Linked DNA regions of Homo sapiens. The protein of the gene in region 2 interacts with the protein of the main gene of each other region in a biochemical or structural test. Each region holds a gene or a part of one and is shown on either strand. Other genes may lie near its edges.

Region 1 (3,648 bases), on a different chromosome or scaffold from region 2:
AAATAGGCAGGACTAAGTTGTTATTCACTATGTCAGCAAACGGGGGTAAAAATACTATTTCAACACCTAAGACCCGTCAGAGAGCAGCTAAGGTGCGGAACTGAAGTACAAGAGGCCTCAGCCCAAGGTCGGGAGAGGACAAGCATTTTTAAGGGTCCAGTGTAACCCAGCCACATGTGCCAGGGATGAAGGGCTTCAGCGTGGTCACCTGGGCTTGTGTCTGCTCACGCCTAGGTCTGCTAGGATCCTCTATGGATATAAACCTAAAAGAATCTCCCATAAAATTTCATACAATAATTAAGTAAGGATACAAGGAATGGGGTAAGACAGTAGACAAGATTATTTTATAATTACTTCCCCGAAATGTTCAATAAATATAAACTGATAATAACATGTATAATTAGTATATATTATCGTAAGCGTTTAAGAGGCAACAGTGAAATATCCATTTAACTGACAACAAAAGTGATTACAATTTACCAAGCATCTGCCCCATGCTAAGCATCACACTAAGCAGTGTACTTTCATCTGCCCAGACACCACACAGTAGATCTTAGCTCAGTTTTGCAAAGGGGGAGACCGAGGCGTGGAGAGGTTTTTCCCAAGGTCAGCCAGCCAGGTCTACCCAACCCCCAAGTTTATGCTTTTGACCATCTCACCATCCCAAGTAGATCATCCTGTTAACCATCATTCAGTCCTAGACACGCAGCATTACTTTTGGATACAAATCAGCCCCATGGCAAGGTAGAAAAATGAGATTTTTAAGAAAGGAAATCTATGCATGGTGTCTGGTGGGTGCTGGAAAGTGTAGAAGAATAAAAGTGATGTCCCTGGAGCTACACTGGATATTTCCAGAAAATCCAGTTACACAGAAGTTGTCAGACACCACTCTTGGCTTCTCTGTATAAAGTAGGAAATGCTGGAAAGAATCCCAGGCACAGTGCAAACTGAGGGAGGGTCTTCTGCGTGCTTGGGGGAGCACAGAGCCAGGGTCCTTTTAGAGAGAGCTCTTGGGTGAGGTCGAACGTGGACGGTCTCCAAGTTCGTCCAGTGAACATTCTACAAGGCTCTACCCCATCTCTTTGCAGAACGGGCTCTGGGGCTGCCAATTCAGATTTGGCCATCTCTTCAAAATAAACAAAGCAGCCGAGGCCATAATTTATCTCTAGGCTGTGGAAAAGCCAGCAAAACTCAAAATCAGACTGCCATCTGTGAAGGTGAAATGAATTATCAAGTGGCACACTAAATGGAATTAATAAATCAAGTTTGCGACTTTGCACACGGAATGAATAATGGGCCACTCTGCTAATTAATCCAGCCCAAAGCAGTCCATTTCCAGTTTAATAAGGGCTTTCACTCACCTTGCCAATCTTGACAGTTTCGGAATGTTCAAGGCCCAGAGCCAGCTGCTCCCAGGTTGGAGCCAGGGCTTTGCAGTGACCACACCACGGAGCGAAGAACTTGATAAAGTGGTCGCCTGGAGTGGAGAGCCAAGGCAGAGACGGGGGAAAGAGGAACTGTAATTTATGTCAGACCTCACTAGAGAGTTAATTGAAGAATCAGATCTTTGTCCTGCTTAGCAAATCTTAGTTCGGCATGAGCACTTTAATTGGTACAAAGGGACTCCATCAAATGTGTTTCTGTTCATGACTTCATAACAATACTCAAAACCAAATTTGTCATCTTTGATGGACAATCAGCAATCAACTCATTATTTGGAAAACTGTAATAAAAGGAAAGAATCAGGCATTTCTCCCACCTCTCCTATATGCACTGTACCGCTGAATAACCAGGTGATAAATGAGGGTGAGTTTCTCTTGGTTAAAAAATGAAGGGACGCTTGAATGAGCCTCGGCACTTGGCAGCCCTAAGGAATGGACGGACCCAGGCTCTGCCTGTCATGGTCGACCACATCCCAAAGAGAGACAACTGGACGTTCTGTGCCCCCACCAGCTATGAGGTCTTCTTGTGCCCCCAAAAAACATCACACTGAAACTGATTTTGTCCCCAGACCCAACTACCAATTTCCAGGAAACAGAGAAATCAGGGAAACATGTAGACCACACTACGGGGACACAATTAGCAAAGTCTGGACCACGGGGAGCTCTACAGGTCAAACCACCTATGTCTTCAGCAAGAAAGATAAAGAGATGTCTGGAGAACATGCAGGTTAAAAGAGCCTTAAAAGATATATAAACACATACACATATAGAACTATAGTGCTCAGGAATGTGCACTTCAGTGCACATAAAGGAGTTGATATGGTTTGGCTGTGTCCCCACCCAAATCTCATCTTGAATTCCCACATGTCGTGGGAGGGACCAGGTAGGAGGTAACTGAGTCACGGGGACAGGTCTTTCCCATGCTGGTCTCGTGATAGTGAATAAGTCTCATGAGATCTGATGGTTTTAAAAACGGGAGTTTCCCTACACAAGCTCTTTTTGCCTGCTGATATCCATATAAGATGTGACTTGCTCCTCCTTGCCTTCCACCATGATTGTGAGGCTTCGCCAGCCACGTGGAACTGTGAGTTCTCCATTAAACCTCTTTCCTTTGTAAATTGCCCAGTCTCGGGTGTGTATTCATCAGCAGTGAAAACGGACTAATACAAGTGGTTTCCACAAATGTCAGGCAAGTGCCTTCTTGGAGAAGGGAGGGCGGGCTGTGCCCTGCATGGGACACGGGAAGCTGGCAGTTTTATTTCTTGAACTGGACAGTAGTTACAGTGTGACCACGCTATAAAAATTCATTAAGCCCTACATTTGTTTTCTCGATCTGTATTATATTTTATCATAAAAAAAAGTTTAAAAAATGAAACATCACCCCCTTGGCTACGGGGAAAAAAACAAACAAACCCTCACAGCATCATTATTTGGACACAGAAGGTGTTTAGCTGTTCTACCCTGACATTGGGCTGATACCAAACTGAAAGCAGGCTGTGGCCGGGGAGAGAACTAACCAGTGGCATGTGGCCTGGCGTCTGAGCAGGACTCTGCCACACTAAGGCTCACAGCTACTGTCTCATCAGCACAGCAACAATGCACTTGAAGAAAATGGTGAAAAACTTCCTTTAAAAGTTAACAACTTCCATTAAAAAATGTGCAAAGCTGAAACCATGTGCAGGTGCACAGTAGATCCTGCACTGTAAGGTGGAGACAGGCTCTCTGGGAACCTAATCAGAGTACTGATGGGAAGCCAGCAAGGGCAGGAAGCCACCATGGTACCTACACGACACAGCTGTGTGGCAGTGACCCACTTAGGGAGGCGCTGGCTAGGCCTGCCGGAGTCGGTCTGTCCTGCCGGAGTCGGTCCGTAACAGGTGATTTGGGAAACACACCCTGCTCAGAGCCCAAGACAATCCCAGCTGAAAATGCATTCCCGTAGCGGAAAGCATGCTAGAGTTCTGCCGTCAGGGCGCTGGTATGGATGAAATAACTTTTAGCAAAAGTGGGAAAAGGCTGAAGGCCTCACGATAAGTTACTGTGGACAGTAAGTGTGGTGGGGGAGGGGCTCTGACTCCCAGCAGGCACAAGTCACAAGGCCAGAGGCAATCCAAGCCATTTCTCACGTTTCCAACCCAGTCTTCTAAGGGGATTTCTCTCCATGGTAGCATTTGGTAATGGGAGCCGGCCAGGAAGCCAAAATTGC
Region 2 (3,748 bases):
AGTGCTGGCAATACAACCGTGAGCCACTGAGCCCGGCCCCTTTGTCCACCTTGGTTGAATGTCAGGCGTTATTTGTCTCCTACCACATTAGAAACATCCTGCAGACAAAGCCCTGAGCTGAATCTTCTTTGGGGCCCTAACACCCATCTGGACAGGTAAGAGGACAGGCAGTGAATGTTTGCATGAGTGACGGAGGCGCTCAGTATGTACCCATGTGTCATGTGTGTATCTGCTCACCTTCCCCATGCTCGTCTGTGTACTGGAAGGCCTGGACCAGCCGCAGAGCCTCATCCACGGAGCGTCCCACAGGCAAATCATTAACAGTGATCTGGCGAAGGACACCCTTGCCATCGATGATAAAGAGGCCCCTGAAGACATCAGGGTTCCCAGTGAGGAGCTGATAGCTCCCACTGCCAGAGACAAGGAAGGGACTACCAACCACCCGCTGCTAGCCACAGGGCTGGGGGCAGAGAAGACATTGTACAGGAGTGGTCCCAGCATCACAGGAATGGGGGGCAGGGCGCTCCCTGAGCCGGGCTGAGGGTCCCACAGTACCTGTAGGCAATGCCCTCATCTGTTTTCAGCACGCCGTAATCCTCAGACAAGCGTCTGGTCACGTCAGCAAGCAGGGGGATGTTCAGGGGGCCCAAGCCTCCCTCTTTCCGGGGGGTGTTGATCCTGGGAGTAGGGGAGACAGAGTTGGGGCCTCAGGATGCCTGGCACAGCAGGGTCCTCACCCTGTGGGCCCAATGTGATAAGCACTGGAGGCCGGAGATAAGGGGCTTTAGAGTAGGCCGCTGGGAGCCTCACCCACCCCACCCTGGGTTGGGTGCAAGGACTGTATCCCCATGGCTGGGAAGACTGAGTTTGAGAGGCACAGCTCCAGCTAAGTGGCTTCACATGTACTTGTAACTTGCAGCATCACCCAGCAGAGAGCCTGTGTTAAGAGTCCCCATCCTCCTCTAGCTGTGTCATGGGGTACAGCCCTTCACTTCGGTGAACTGGAGTTTCCATCTTCATGAAATAGGGCAGCACAGCCTCCCTCCTGGGAACTAAGTACATAGAGTAGATAGAGTTGCATCTGAGTTGCATCTGCAACTCTATATACCAGGCAACTAGTTGTCAAATGCTAATTACTGTCATCATCCTTAAAGACTTGGGCGGCAATGTTTCCATTATTTTCACGATGGGGAAACGCAGGTTCCAGAGGTTGAGCAATGGCCACGAAGCCACACTGCTAGGACCTGAGGGTGTGAGCTTAGCTGCAACCTCCCTCTTTGGCCCCTGCTCATACCAAGCCAGGTGGGTGAACTGAGAGTCCACCGAGACGCCCAGCACTTCACAGCCCAGCTTGCGGAAGTCCTCTGCACGGTTGCTGAACGCGATGATCTCGGTGGGGCACACAAAAGTGAAGTCCAGAGGGTAGAAAAAGAGGACCACGTACTTCCCTGGGGAGGAGGGACACAGAGGAGTTAGGGCCCAGCTTCTCTCATGCACGGCCCCGCTTCTACCTGGGCCCCCTCCGGGCGGCGCTCACCTTTGTAGTCCGACAGCTTCACCTCTTTGAAGGCGCCATCAACCACCGCTGTGGCCTTGAAGTCAGGGGCTGGCTTTCCGATGCGCGCGTTACCGGAGGCCATGACTGAAAGCTGAGACCCCCGCCCGGTCAGTGCGCCCGGGAAGACACTTTGTCCTCCCAACCCAAGGTCGCGCTGCGTGCTGGGCCCTATGACTGAGTCAGCACGGCGGAGGCGACAGCACTAACCCTCACCCTCCCGGGTACCCGGTCTACGAGGCCCGGAGGCTGCCGGAGACCCGCTCTCCTGACCAGAGCACGAGTGACCCAGCCACTGCCACCAGCACCCCACGAGCGAGTCGGCCGGAGGGCGGTGTCGCAAGCCCCCAGCCCAGAAGGAGACAGTGAGGCCCGCACGAGCAGGGGGCGGGAAGTCGGGCGATCAGGCCTGCGCTGCAAGGCTGTGGCCTCGGTTTCCCCCGCAAGGACAAAGGAGGCCACTATAGCGGATGGAAAGCAAAGGCGGCCAGCACTAAAGTCAGGATCGGGCCAAAGCAGCCTGAAGGGGGTCCTCCCGCCAGGTGCACTCCGGGTGTTCATACCTGCGTGGGCAAAGGCTAGACGCACGGACGATCACACGCGTGGACCCGCGTTCTCAGCGCCAAGTGAGCCCTGGGCCGCGAAGCCTTTTATGCCCGGCCCGAACCAAGACGTGCACGGCGCGGGGGAGGGAGCGGACGAGCGGAGCGGTCGGGTCCACTGCGCCCGCAGGTGCGGGGGAGCGTGCGGCCGGGTCCATGCGCCTGCGGGCGGCGGGGGGAGACGCGTTGCCTTCGGCCGGGACCACTGCACCTGCCCGCGTGGGTAATGCGCCCGCCGCAGACTCCGCGCACGACTCCGCCTGGGAGCGCGTTGGGGGCCGTTGGAGTCCAGCATGGCGCGGACCCCGGGGGCGCTGCTGCTGGCGCCTCTGCTACTCCTGCAGCTGGCGACCCCTGCCCTGGTCTACCAGGACTATCAGTACTTAGGGCAGCAGGGCGAAGGTGACAGCTGGGAGCAGCTGAGGCTGCAGCATCTAAAGGGTAACCTCAGGCGGCGGGGATGACGATGCCCAAAGGCTCCCCGTTGCCCTACTTCTCCTGCTGGCTGCAAAGGGACCTTCCTCGGCGGGCTGCAAATCTCCACCCAGCTCCGCACTGGAGGCGTCCCCTTGGGCTGGTTACTTTTCTCTAAGGCTCGGTTTACTCTTGGATATATTGAAATAGATACTGCTTTAAAGCAGCTCCCAGGGGAAGAGAGGGTGTGGGCAGGACACTGAAGCTGTCACTCGGGGATAGGTGCCAGGAAGGGCAGAGACAGAGAAAGAAGGGGGCGGGCAAGCTTGGGAAATCAGAGAGGGTCCGATTGCAGAAGACCCGTGACCAGTGCAGCGAGAACGACAAGCGAAAGTCCCATATGGAAAGATTTGGGGAAAGAATGTCCAAGGAAGAGGGAATAGCAAATGCCAAGGTGAAAAGTCCTGAAGGAGAAATGGAAAGAGGTCGGTGAGGTGTGGCAGAGACATGGGTGTGGGAGGGTAGGAGGTGTCAGACCTTGGTGAGCGGTGAGTTGGGATAAGATCGGAGTTGGGATAAGATCTGTCTCATAGGGGAAAGGGGCAGATTCAGTAAAGAGCCCTTTAAAGTGATCACAGTGGCCGGCGCGGTAGCTCACGCCTATAATCCTAGCACTTTGGGAGGCTGAGGTGGGAGGATCCCTTGGTCTCGGAGACCAGACCAGCCTGGCCCACACAGCAAGACTCCATCTCTACAAAAAATATTTTAAAATTAGCCTGACTTGATGGCCCAGCACTTTGGGAGGCCGAGGCGGGAGGACTGCTTGAGCCCAGGAATTCAAGACCAGCCTGGGCAACATGGAGAGACCCCCTACTCTACAAAAATAAATAAATAAATAAAAATAAAAAATAAATTAGCCTGCCATGGTGGCATGCGCCTGTAGTCCCAGCTACTCAAGAGGCTGATACAGGAGGACCATTTGTGCCAAGGAGTTTGAAGCTGCAGTGAGCCATGATTATGCCCTTGCATTCCAACCTGGGTAACAGAGCAAGATCTTGTCTCAAAATAAATAAATTAAATAAATAAACAAACTGATCATAATAAATTGGTTTGTATATGCTAGCACAGCACCGGGAGATTTACTTACCTTCATTATGTCAATTATGCCATTTATCAC

Evidence for each region.
Region 1: of the proteins of PRDX2 (region 2) and TXNDC5, one has a biochemical effect on the other in vitro, tested with the Homo sapiens proteins (one study listed by BioGRID).

Annotation. Positions count from the first base shown.
Region 1 is NC_000006.12:7,890,260-7,893,907, forward strand, and holds part of TXNDC5 (thioredoxin domain-containing protein 5 isoform 1 precursor), read right to left. Parts: intron 1,478-3,648; coding exon 1,362-1,477; intron 1-1,361. UniProt on the Homo sapiens protein: Protein disulfide isomerase of the endoplasmic reticulum lumen involved in the formation of disulfide bonds in proteins. Can reduce insulin disulfide bonds.
Region 2 is NC_000019.10:12,799,622-12,803,369, forward strand, and holds the start of PRDX2 (peroxiredoxin-2), read right to left. Parts: upstream 2,180-3,748; 5' UTR 2,119-2,179; intron 1,650-2,118; 5' UTR 1,641-1,649; coding exon 1,538-1,640; intron 1,449-1,537; coding exon 1,295-1,448; intron 679-1,294; coding exon 556-678; intron 369-555; coding exon 238-368; intron 1-237. Other genes in the region: THSD8 (thrombospondin type-1 domain-containing protein 8 precursor), read left to right, coding at 2,451-2,598.